4 separate regions of the Homo sapiens genome follow, and regions 1, 2 and 4 are each linked to region 3. The links come from fine-mapping of genetic effects on gene expression. A gene starts in region 3. Each other region holds a variant in brackets. All regions are shown on one strand. Distances are from middle to middle. Region 1 overlaps EYA4 (EYA transcriptional coactivator and phosphatase 4). Region 2 has its middle 26 kb from the start of LINC00326. Region 3 holds the start of EYA4 (EYA transcriptional coactivator and phosphatase 4). Region 4 has its middle 120 kb from the start of LINC00326.

Evidence for each region.
Region 1: its variant is fine-mapped to the expression of EYA4 in lung (TOPMed, PIP above 0.99).
Region 2: its variant is fine-mapped to the expression of EYA4 in left ventricle (GTEx, PIP above 0.99).
Region 4: its variant is fine-mapped to the expression of EYA4 in esophagus muscle (GTEx, PIP above 0.99).

The regions. Positions count from the first base shown.
Region 1 is chr6:133,290,328-133,292,948 of GRCh38, forward strand. The region is part of intron 2 of EYA4 (EYA transcriptional coactivator and phosphatase 4); the gene reads left to right. Among named protein-coding and RNA genes, the nearest start is that of EYA4, 50 kb to the left of the region's middle. The variant C/T (reference allele first, on the strand shown) is at 1,527.
Region 2 is chr6:133,060,910-133,063,530 of GRCh38, forward strand. No RefSeq gene overlaps it. Among named protein-coding and RNA genes, the nearest start is that of LINC00326, 26 kb to the right of the region's middle. The variant A/G (reference allele first, on the strand shown) is at 1,421.
Region 3 is chr6:133,239,844-133,242,464 of GRCh38, forward strand. EYA4 (EYA transcriptional coactivator and phosphatase 4) reads left to right here and starts at 1,514. Exons shown (of 20, transcript NM_004100.5): 1 at 1,514-1,906. It overlaps LOC124901231 (serine/arginine repetitive matrix protein 1-like), which reads right to left. Exons shown (of 3, transcript XM_047419612.1): 2 at 2,376-2,568; 3 at 477-1,813. The coding sequence ends at 943. RefSeq lists an enhancer at 1,857-2,621.
Region 4 is chr6:132,963,414-132,966,034 of GRCh38, forward strand. No RefSeq gene overlaps it. Among named protein-coding and RNA genes, the nearest start is that of LINC00326, 120 kb to the right of the region's middle. The variant G/C (reference allele first, on the strand shown) is at 1,515.

The sequences.
Region 1 (2,621 bases), 50 kb after region 3:
TTGTGCCTTCATCAAAAAAGTTTGAAATGTTTTCAGTTCATACATAAGAAGAAAAAAATTTGATATGGGTTTATTTTCCCCTATTAACATTTTCTTTGATTTACAGTCTGTTGTATCAGACATGATGTGAAAGGGGTAGACAACAACCTAGACTATATTTATTTTTCAATCTGCTAATGTGAAGAAAAAAGGGGAGGAGTTAGGTGAGATTTGGAGTCTGTAATGGTTTTTCTACACCAGGGTTTTTAGGGAGATTCTAAATAGAGCACACTCTCATTTGTTTCAATTAAATGCCTTGCCCACTTAATCTCCTTTTCGTATTGCCATGCTTGATACAGAGGGCTCCAGGACTAGTTTACTAGGTGGTAGGACCTTTAGAGATTATGCTGTCCAAATCCTTTACGTTAGTTTAACAGATGCAAAAATGGAGACTGAAAGGGTTTAAGCAGAGTGAGAACATTAACAACAACACTTTGTTTTGAAATGAGGTTTTTTGATTCGTTCCAACCTTCACACAAATTTGAAAGCATACTTTTGTGTAAGTTTCTTAATATTTGGAAATTAACATCAGCCCCAGCCTCCCTGAAAACTGTGGTGAGTTATTACTATATATAAAGATTAATGAAATAATTGCTTTTGAGTTTCTACTACAATTGGTGGATCAGGGTCATCTAAAAAAACTCAAGCAAAGGTGTGAAAACTTTATTTTGCATGTTTGTTTTTCTCCTAGTTATTATTTACTGCTCAATCAGCATTAACAGAAGAAAAATAATTTGGCTGCTAAGTTACTGTAGTATAGGATTTCAAAGGACCTTATTAGAGAGAGATGTAATTTCATCCCCTGGGCCTTTTATGTAACAGAGTGCATATTTGGGTTACTTCATTTTGACCCGGAATTAAACAATAGACTTAAGTTGTATTCAGGAAGTTAAAATATTTATTCAACAAAGATTTAAAAGCATTTTACAGTTATTTCCAAATTCCTAGGGATATCTTTATAGCTTTATTTTCTTATTTTAGCTAACTCTTGTCTGAATAGCTCCTTCATCAAAGAATTTTCTGTTTATTTCATAAATCTTATAAGATGTATGTATTTGATAACTACTGCATATAATCAGTGTTTTTTAAATAAACATCTTTGGCAAATTGATATAAACATGATTTTATATATTGCTTAACTACATATATAGGCCATAGTTTCGTTATGGTGCTCAGTAATGAAAAATATGGAGTAGATGTTACAAGTGGTAATAAAGCTAATATTAAAGAAAGTAAGGCTGAAGATTCCTAAGTTCAAAATAAAAAGGCTTTGCAGCTTCAGTTTTAGGAGCGTTTTCATAAAATGAAAGAGGCAAATAGTGCCAAGGTGCTACCAACTCCAGCTTCCTAGCAATGCAAGGATTCTTCCTTTAGCCACTTATAAAAGTGGTCACCTCAGCTCACTCTCTGTAGGACTGACTGCTTCCCCTTTCTTCTGTGATTTGCATAGTATTATCCACATTGATTCATGTTTGGGGTGATTGTTT[C/T]CATCCTCACTGTGAGATTATGAACTTCTTATTTTCTTTCCATGAAATAAAGTTTTCATTGGCTGGGATCCCAGCTAGACTGATTTTTTTTTCCTTTTTTCGTTTGTTTGCTTAATATTTTAGATTTTGAAAGTCCTTCAAAATTAAAGTACTTGCATACTATCCTAGGGCAATAATTTGTGACTGAAAATCTTTGTGAAAAATCCTAAGAGGTATTTAAAAGTTTATGTTAAGTAAGTTGTTATCAGTGGTTAAGAGGCCTTTCCAGAGTGCTTGTCCACTGGACATTTATATGGAACTTACTGTAATAGCATCTGCTTAATTTTTGGATGATGCAGACACATTCCGTTGCACAAAATTACTCTGCAAAAGTAAGTCAGGAATCACTCATGATAATTTCAGGTTATGCATACTTATTTTAGAATGTTGAATCAATTTGCTAATCTTCAAAGGAGTAAATTTTACACCAATTGCGTCTGGTTTAATAGGCTTAATATTTTCATAATGCCAGAGTAATTTTTCTTCTTAGTTTTATTCTTGCATAATTGTTGGAATTATATGTACATTGTTTTAATTCTTGAGCCCTTAATATCAAATAGCTTGAGCATTAAGGGAATTAATTGAAGGCCTTAGGATATGGGTGTTTATTACATGAACATGGATTGAATGTTGATGTTGGGATTTTAAACGGGAAGTTGCTTTGCTGTTAGATTCCATCACATTGAATGTATCAACATTTATACAAGGAAATTGGGAAGAAATGTACTCTCAGTCCCTGGTTGCTCTTTGTTTGTGAAAAGTAACAAATTTAGGAGTTGATCTAAAAGGAAAATTTTTGTGTTAATGTTTTTAAAACATTAAAGCATCTTTAAACAATATTTTTGTCTCAGATGTCTAGATGCATATTTATACCCCCAGAAATTTGAATAAGTCTGTTTAAATATTTTTGTCCTTTTCCTGAATGTCAACCCTTTGGCAGAGTGTTTATATGTTAAAGCTTGAAGAGCAAGTAGAGATCACACAGTCCAACTCTGTCATTTCATAGATGTAATTAGAGTAAACTAAGGATCAGTCTGAGTATAATGAAGTATAAAA
Region 2 (2,621 bases), 180 kb before region 3:
TTTAGTTATGCAGGATGAATAAGTTCTGGAATCTAATGTACAGCATGGTGACTATAGTTAATAACACTGAATCATGTACTTAAAATTTGCTAAGAGAGTTGATCTGAAGTGTTTTCACCACACACAAAAAATCATAACTATGTGAGGTGATTGGTGATTGGATATGTACATTAGTTTGACTTTGACAATCATTTCACAGTGAATACCTATGTCAAATCACCACATTGTACAGCTTAAATAAATACAGCTTTGGCAAGTATACTCAAAAAAGATTGAAAATTACAAAAAACATTCTATATTAAATGTGGCAAATATGCATGCACTTTTTATTTATTCTATGAGCCTAGTACAAATTTAATTTTGCTAGCAATATTAAAGTCAATTAAGCTATGTTTTATTTACAATGGTGATAACTTTTTCACTCAAATCATTTACTATTAAAAGAAAAACAATTTTTATTATTGCATGAAACAAATATTTTTAAAAATTGATGTCAATGTTACCAATTATAATTCTTCTTTTCCATTTTTTTGTTGTTAATGAGGAAAAATATATTTAAATTTAAAAATATGTAAAAATTTAAAGTTCAATTTTTGGCTGAGTGGAAAATCCTATGGGATAAAATGGAAAGAGAAAGAGCCTCGGGGTCAGCAGACCTGGATTTTAATCCGGATTCTGTCACTTAAAAACAGTTTCTTTCTAAACTTGAATACTTTAATCTTTGTGAATTTCCAGTTTTCTGCCCTGTAGACTGGGGACAATAACACATATTTTGTAAGGCAGTAAAAAAGAGTAAATGAGAAAAAATATGGAAAATGCTTAGTTTAATATGCATAATGCTTGGCATATTAGAACACTAACTAAATGTTAATTTCTTTTCCATAGTTACATGAGCATTCTTTCATATCAATAGATCTTAATTCATCCAATGTCTCAGAATTTTTATTAGAAAAAATACTATTAAAAATTGTTTGATAATATTTTCAATCCTTAAAACTTCTGATAATTTGGCTTAATTATGTTCTTTTTTCATTAGAAGTTTCTAAATTATGTCTAATTTAATGATTGCAGTGATCAAAATTGACTCAAATGAGAAATCATTCAGGTTCTGAATTTCTAGAGGAAGAAAAGACAAAGTGGACAAAAAAAGGAAGAACGAATAAAATCTTGAACAATAGTATAGTAATTATACTGGTAGTAATTGAATAAAAAGTTATCTTCTGGATTAAACACTTAAGAGGATTTTTCCTTTACAGCCAATCCGTAGTGATGGGAGATCCACTGAAGTCATCTCATGATGTGTGTTGTCGGGCTATTTAAAGGCTGCTGTTTCACTTCCAAACTTCACTCCCTTCTGACGTCTTCAGTGCTGTTCACTTGGCAACCTTGGCTACTCTTCAGCAGATAATTTGTACTCTAC[A/G]TAAGCATTTAGAAGAACCCAGAGTTAAACCAAGGATAAGAGTCATCGGTAACATTTATAGTTACTGAACTCCTCACTATGTGTCACAAAGTGGGTCAGAGGGTGCATCTTTCAGGAGAAAAAGAACATTCTTTTAGTGCTATTTCTACTTCCACATTGATACGACAATGATTCCTACAGCTAAATTAAGGTTTGACCTCATGTGTCAAATGATTTTTGTTTAGTCAATAGATTTTTTTCTAAATGTTATCCTCTCCAAAAAAATCAGAAATTTAGCATTTAAGTTATGCATGATCACAAGTACATATATATATACACACACATATATATATGCAAGAACAGCCTTTTCTTGACAATAATTCAATGCGAGAAAAATTTAGATAAATGTATTGAATGTACAAAAGTGTAATAAAACCCCCTTTAGTTTAATAGATAAAAGAGCATTGTGGGGAGTTTTTTCTTTGCAGGGTTGGAGTATGTGCTCTGCTCATGGAAACCAGCTGTCATGCCACTTCCCAGCACTCGGAGGGAACAGAAACTTGTTTCTTCTCTACTGTTAAAGCAAAAGGGTGTGCCCAAGGCAAAGATTAGAGTGGCTGTGGATCTGCAGGTGGTTTTACGTATTTGCGGTGAGGTCAAAGAAACATCTTTTTTTGCACTTCTTCTTTTCTCCAAATTGGGCATTGCCTGAAATGGACGCATTCAGCAGCACTGTGGGATGAGATATGTACAAGGCATCATTTCCCTCTAAGGCAAATACCTTCACTGCTGGCAAACCTTCAGAATTTGCAAGCTCAGCCAGCACCTTTGACCCGGCCACACAGCTGACAGCACAGTTGGCAGTTGGTAGCTTCCATTTATCCTAGGTCAGCTCCCGAGGCATCGGCATAAAATGAAATAAAGATTTGAGCAGTCACTTCAGAAATGAAAATGGGAATGCCCAATAGTTTGCTTCAGTTTGCTCAGGCTGAGAACCATTTATTAAGCTGGTAAAATGGGAAAGTCATACATGAGAGTACCTGCTCAGGAGAAAGAAATAGATTGATCAGACACATTATCTAAAGATCCAGAAGAGAAATCCACTGATTTCTAACAGTCAACCCACTGATGGCTTGAGATGTAGTTGAGACTACCACACATTTCAGTAGGCAGATATTGTCACCTTCATATCCTCAGTGCCTAGCACTGTGCCTGGTAGTTT
Region 3 (2,621 bases):
AATTTACAACACCACCTTTTCTAGAGCCTCTTAAGCATTGTAGATAATTCCCCACTCATTAAAAAATAAATTGTAACCATAAGTATTCAGGGTTGATACTGCTTTTGAATTAGACAGTGCTCATATCAGTTGCATAAGACCAACCTAAAGTAGAGGATGAAATCTTTTTTCTGAACCTTTTTCAGAACGTAACTTAGTGAATATATTAAAACTAAACTTTCTTTGAATGGGAGTAATTTCTACGGATTAATCTGTAATCTCTTAGACCACACCTAAGGTAATGTAGAGGTTGTTGTATCATAGGCTTTGTGATTAGAGACCACTGGATTTGTCTTTGGAAAAGTCACTCATGATTCTTTGGGCTTTGGTTTCCTCATCTTTTATACCGGCTTAATAATGACCACCGTAGAGTTGTCATGGAAGTTAAATGAACTCATGTACCATAAGTGACCAATACAATGATTGACACTCAGTGATTTATCAATAAATTAAAACATTTATTATCAATATGACAGAGAAGGTGCCGCTAAAATAGACAATAGGTTTTTGGAAGAGGTGATTAAATGGATGCAAAATTTATGGATTGTTTATTCCGTCTACCTTTGCTGTGTCCCCTGGTTGTGGCATACACACGTGTGGGTATAAAATCGTAAATCCTATGTAGTCGCGTAGTGCATGCGCAGAAGGCTTAGACACGAAATGTCATTTCAGCAATGTGCCTAGAGAAGCTCTGACGCCGCCTTGGAAGTAAGTCGTTGCTGCCTGACCTTTGGGCGTCTGGGACGGATGCCTATACCTGCACCCAGCAGCACTGGAAGGGGCCCAGGCCCTTCGCAGCACAGCCTATCCCCAGACCGCTTAGTCCTTCATAACATATATCTCCACGGAAAAGGGTATTTCCTCCCGTCAGAAAAAGCGCCCCAGTCTGGTCTGGGTTGGTTTTTATTTCACGTTGTTGCAAGTAGGCGAAGTCCCTTCTGTCTCCTCCCTTGGGGTAAGTGGAAAGGAGTCCGGCAGGGGGCCCGCAGTGGCCTGCACAGGGGAACTGGGTAGCGAGAGAGTTCCAGGCAATTCCGGGGGCTGCCCCACAGAAGCAGGTGGGGATCGACAGTGGCTCTCCGGCCCAGGGAGGAGAGCGCGGTCGCGGGTCCCTCCCCTCAGCCTGGAGGCTGCAGCCGCTCGAGTCGGCCCGGGTGGGGGCGGGGTGGGGGCGGCGCGGAGGGCACGGAGATTACGGCGGCGCCACCCGGGACATCCAGGGCCCCGAGGCCCTGGGCGGTCCCCACGCGAGATCGCAAACCATGACAATAGGCAGTCACCCGAGGTCAAATAAAAACGGAGTGGGTCCCCCGCGCGCCGCCGCCCCCCGCGTCCCTGGCGGCCTCCCCCGAGGCCCCCGGCGGCCTCACGAGCCCGCAGTAGCCGGTGGCGACGTCGCCCCCGCCCCACCTCCCTGCGCAAGTGCGAGGCTGCCGGCAGCGCGGCGCACGCTCCGGCCGTTCCCGGCTTCCGCGCAAAACTTCCATCCTGTCCACGTGAAGTTGTCGCTGCCTTAGAGAGGGGGAAAGAGCTGCGGGAAAAGCCGGGGAGTGACGACTGCGGCGGCTGGGCGCGCTCTCTCATTTTCTTTTCTTCTCCTTTCCCCCCTGTCGCAGTCCGGAGTTTTGGCTCCTCTCCTTTCCTCCTCCCCCTCGGAGCCGGCTTCTCCCTCCGCCCCGCTTCTCCCCCGCTTGTGTACGCTATTTGTTGTGGGGTGGCCGAAGGGGATGTCCTGTTTTCACCAGAGGCACAGCGCGAAGGGGAAACTTCGACACTGGAAGGAACGAGAATAAATACTTAATTACGGACGCACTGAACCGCGGCTGGGACAGACACTTCGGGAACCCGAGGCGGACCGGGCGACGAGGTGAGTGACCCCTTCTTCCAACCCCCGCCCCAGGGCTCCCGGGGGAGCCTGAGTTGAGAGAACCCCCAAACTTTCCGGGAAAGTGCGCGAGGCTCCGCCGGGGACGCCGAGCGCTGGGTACTGAGGACGCGCAGCTGGACGGTGCGTGGGCGCCTGCGTCCCCGGGGGGCGCTTGGAGGCCGGGTGCCCCACGCCTGAGGGCCCGGGCCGCTCGGACCGCAGCGGTGCTCTCTGCCCTAGAAGACGTCCCCAAGCCCCAAGGGTCCCTTCCGAGCCTGCCTGTCCCTTCCGGGGTCGGCGCGGAGCCTGCGCGTAACGGAGTTCATCCAGCAGTCCAGCGCGCGGCTTCTACCTGCACCCCGCCTCCACCTGGCAGAGGCGCGAGCATCGGGGTCTCCCCCACATCTTTCTTATGACGTGTATTACTTTCTGATGACCCCCTAGATGGTCCAGGCGCGAGGATGCTGACCCAGAGTCCTTCGGAGGGTCACAGGCGCCTGGGCTTTCCCGGTGCCGGGTGCGTGTGTACTTTAAAGGCTCGCGTTCTAATCTCCAGGCACTGATCGGGCTTTTCAACTGCGGCGATCCCACTTTAATAGTTTTTATGTGGCGTGGACTGAATGTCTCCTGCAGTTTGCCAGGGTCGGTGAAATTAGAGGCGCCTTGTCAGAGCAGTCGCGTTCATTGGCTCGAGTAGCGGGTGCCATGGAAGGCT
Region 4 (2,621 bases), 280 kb before region 3:
CCTCCAACACCCATACTAGTAGACTGCGGCAGAACTGGGACCAGGACTGAGGTCTCCAGATTTTTCTTAGACCATCTTCTGCTCCAACCTGCTATCGCCCCATGATGAAAATGCTGCCAAGAAAATTCACACATTGCGTTTGACCCTATCCCAGGGTCCTTTTCAACACTTTGGCAGATGGAAAATGATCTCCTTCCCTGAACATCCAGGTTTTAATTAGTAGATACTGTGAATGTTCACTTCCCAATTCCTCCTTACAGATTCATATAGAAATGAACAGAATTCACCCCAAGAACTTTGTGTTCTAGTTAGGAAAACCTCATTCCTATAGGAGTGTTTTCTAACTCTTTCCTACCTACTTATCTCCATTTTCTAGTGAGTACCAGCCGCAGGATCTTTCTTATTCCTCTGATCAGGACACTGTTGGCCTCTTGTCAAAACTAACAGAATCACTCTTGCCAAAAAATACATTAGAAACTAATATTTTAAAATATATTAAAATGTCTGTGTTACAATGCATGCTAAAAACCCATTTCCAACCTATGCAGACCCAGTGTCTTCCAGGTAAAACCTATGTTCCCGCTTTGTGAGAGAGCCCCTGCTTTCTTCAAAAACAACCAATTTCGGGGCCATATTATAGATCTAGGTGAAGAGCCCACAGCACAACATAAATTAGAATTAGAATCATAACTGAAACCTTTTAGAGCGCCTATTGATTTTAACATGCCTGGTCCATAGAGGCAACCTCAGTGAGTCCACTTCCTCCTAATTTGACAGCTGCTCAGCTATGGCCAGAGCTTGGACTAATGAGGTTACAGCTGTCAGGGTTAATCAACAGATCCAAATATGAACAAGGAATTGGGTAGCTGGTTTCAGTTAATTTGTGCAAATGTACGGATTGGGTGGGCAATATTTACACTGGTGACTCAAAACAAACTTTCAGGAATGGAGCCAAAAATGATCTCACCAGTTCTCAGCTCTGCTCTGGAGAGATAAGACACAAATTACAGAAACAGGAGATGGAACACGAAAGAGTTCATAGTTTCAAACTACCCATGAAAAGCCCATTTATATCCAGCTTATTTCCCTCTTTATCAAGTATCTAATTTAATTTCTAATACTTGAGTTTCTGGTCATTCCACAAAAGGTTCTCAAACTGTCCCCTGATGATTCAGTGTGGGATGTGTGGGTCTTCTTCCCTTGCCATGGGACTTTATGTAACAGTCATCCCTCTCCCAATCTGCACACATATGAGAGCATCCAAAGTAAATGCCACAATCCCTACATGTCCATTTTGTTATGAAAACATCATTCTATTAATATAAATACAGACTGCATTTGCCAGAGCTAACTAGAACAGGTGCAAAGTCTTTAGATGCTTGCTTGCACTGAGAAATGAAAAGAGTGTACAAACAGTTTCTCTTGTGGTGGCACTGCTGGTGTCGATGTAACATTCATCTCTGTTGCATTCCTTGATGTTCATGGAAGGTAGCCCAGGAAACTCAATACAACCT[G/C]CTTGTAGGGTAGAGAAGGAAGAAGCAGGAAGAGAAAGATAGTGATGACATGGTCTCTAGGATTCTGTTTATGCAAATACTCTCCCCTTGATCTGGGGCTTGTGCGGGTTATGTATAGAGTACATTCTGTCAAATCTCCTGCTGAGAGTTAAGGGATGCTGCCAACATAAATATTCTGGTGATTCTGAATTTAGAAAACAGCTTAAAGGCTCCTGATGTTTCTGTTCTTCCTCTTCTTTTTTTTTTAATCTTATCCATGTGACTGCCACCGTGTTGCCCATGGTTTCAAATTTACTTTGTAGTTTTCCAAGCAAGAGAAAGTCATTACCTGAAAGGCACATGTGGGTTTCTGTCTGCATCATCATGGTTATCTCAACACTGCACTTCATTTTGTGGAATGAGAGCATTAAATGCATATGCCACTAGGTGGAATAGTCTTAATAAATACATAATAAATATTCTATGTGATGGTTGAGGATCTTATGTGCATGATTTTATATATTTTGGGAGTCCATCTTTAAAAGTGAGTTCCTAAGTGTATGTGTGTTAGTGTGTATTTGTACAGAATATATATATAATATATATACACACACACATATATATACTCTGCATACACATATATACATATATATGAAATCTTATATATAGTAAAAGCATATATTTAAACTTCTATATGTGTGTATATATATGAGTATATATATATACACTCTGTATGTATATGCATATATATATACTCTGTATGTATATGCATATATATATACATATACATATATATATATATACATATACATATATATATATATATACATATACATATATATATATATATATATACACACACACACACACTCTATATGCATACAGAGTATATATACAGGTTGAGTGTCCCTTATCTGAAATGCTTGGCACCAGAAGTGTTTCAGCTTTCAAGTTTTATTCAGATTTTGGAATATTTGCATTATACTTATCAGTTGAGCATCCCAAGTTCAGAAATCCAGAATCTAAAATGCCTCAATGAATATTTCCTTTGAGTAACCTATAGGTGCTCAAAAGTTTTGGATTTGGAGTGTTTCAGATTTTGGATTTTCAGATTTGGGGTGCTCAACC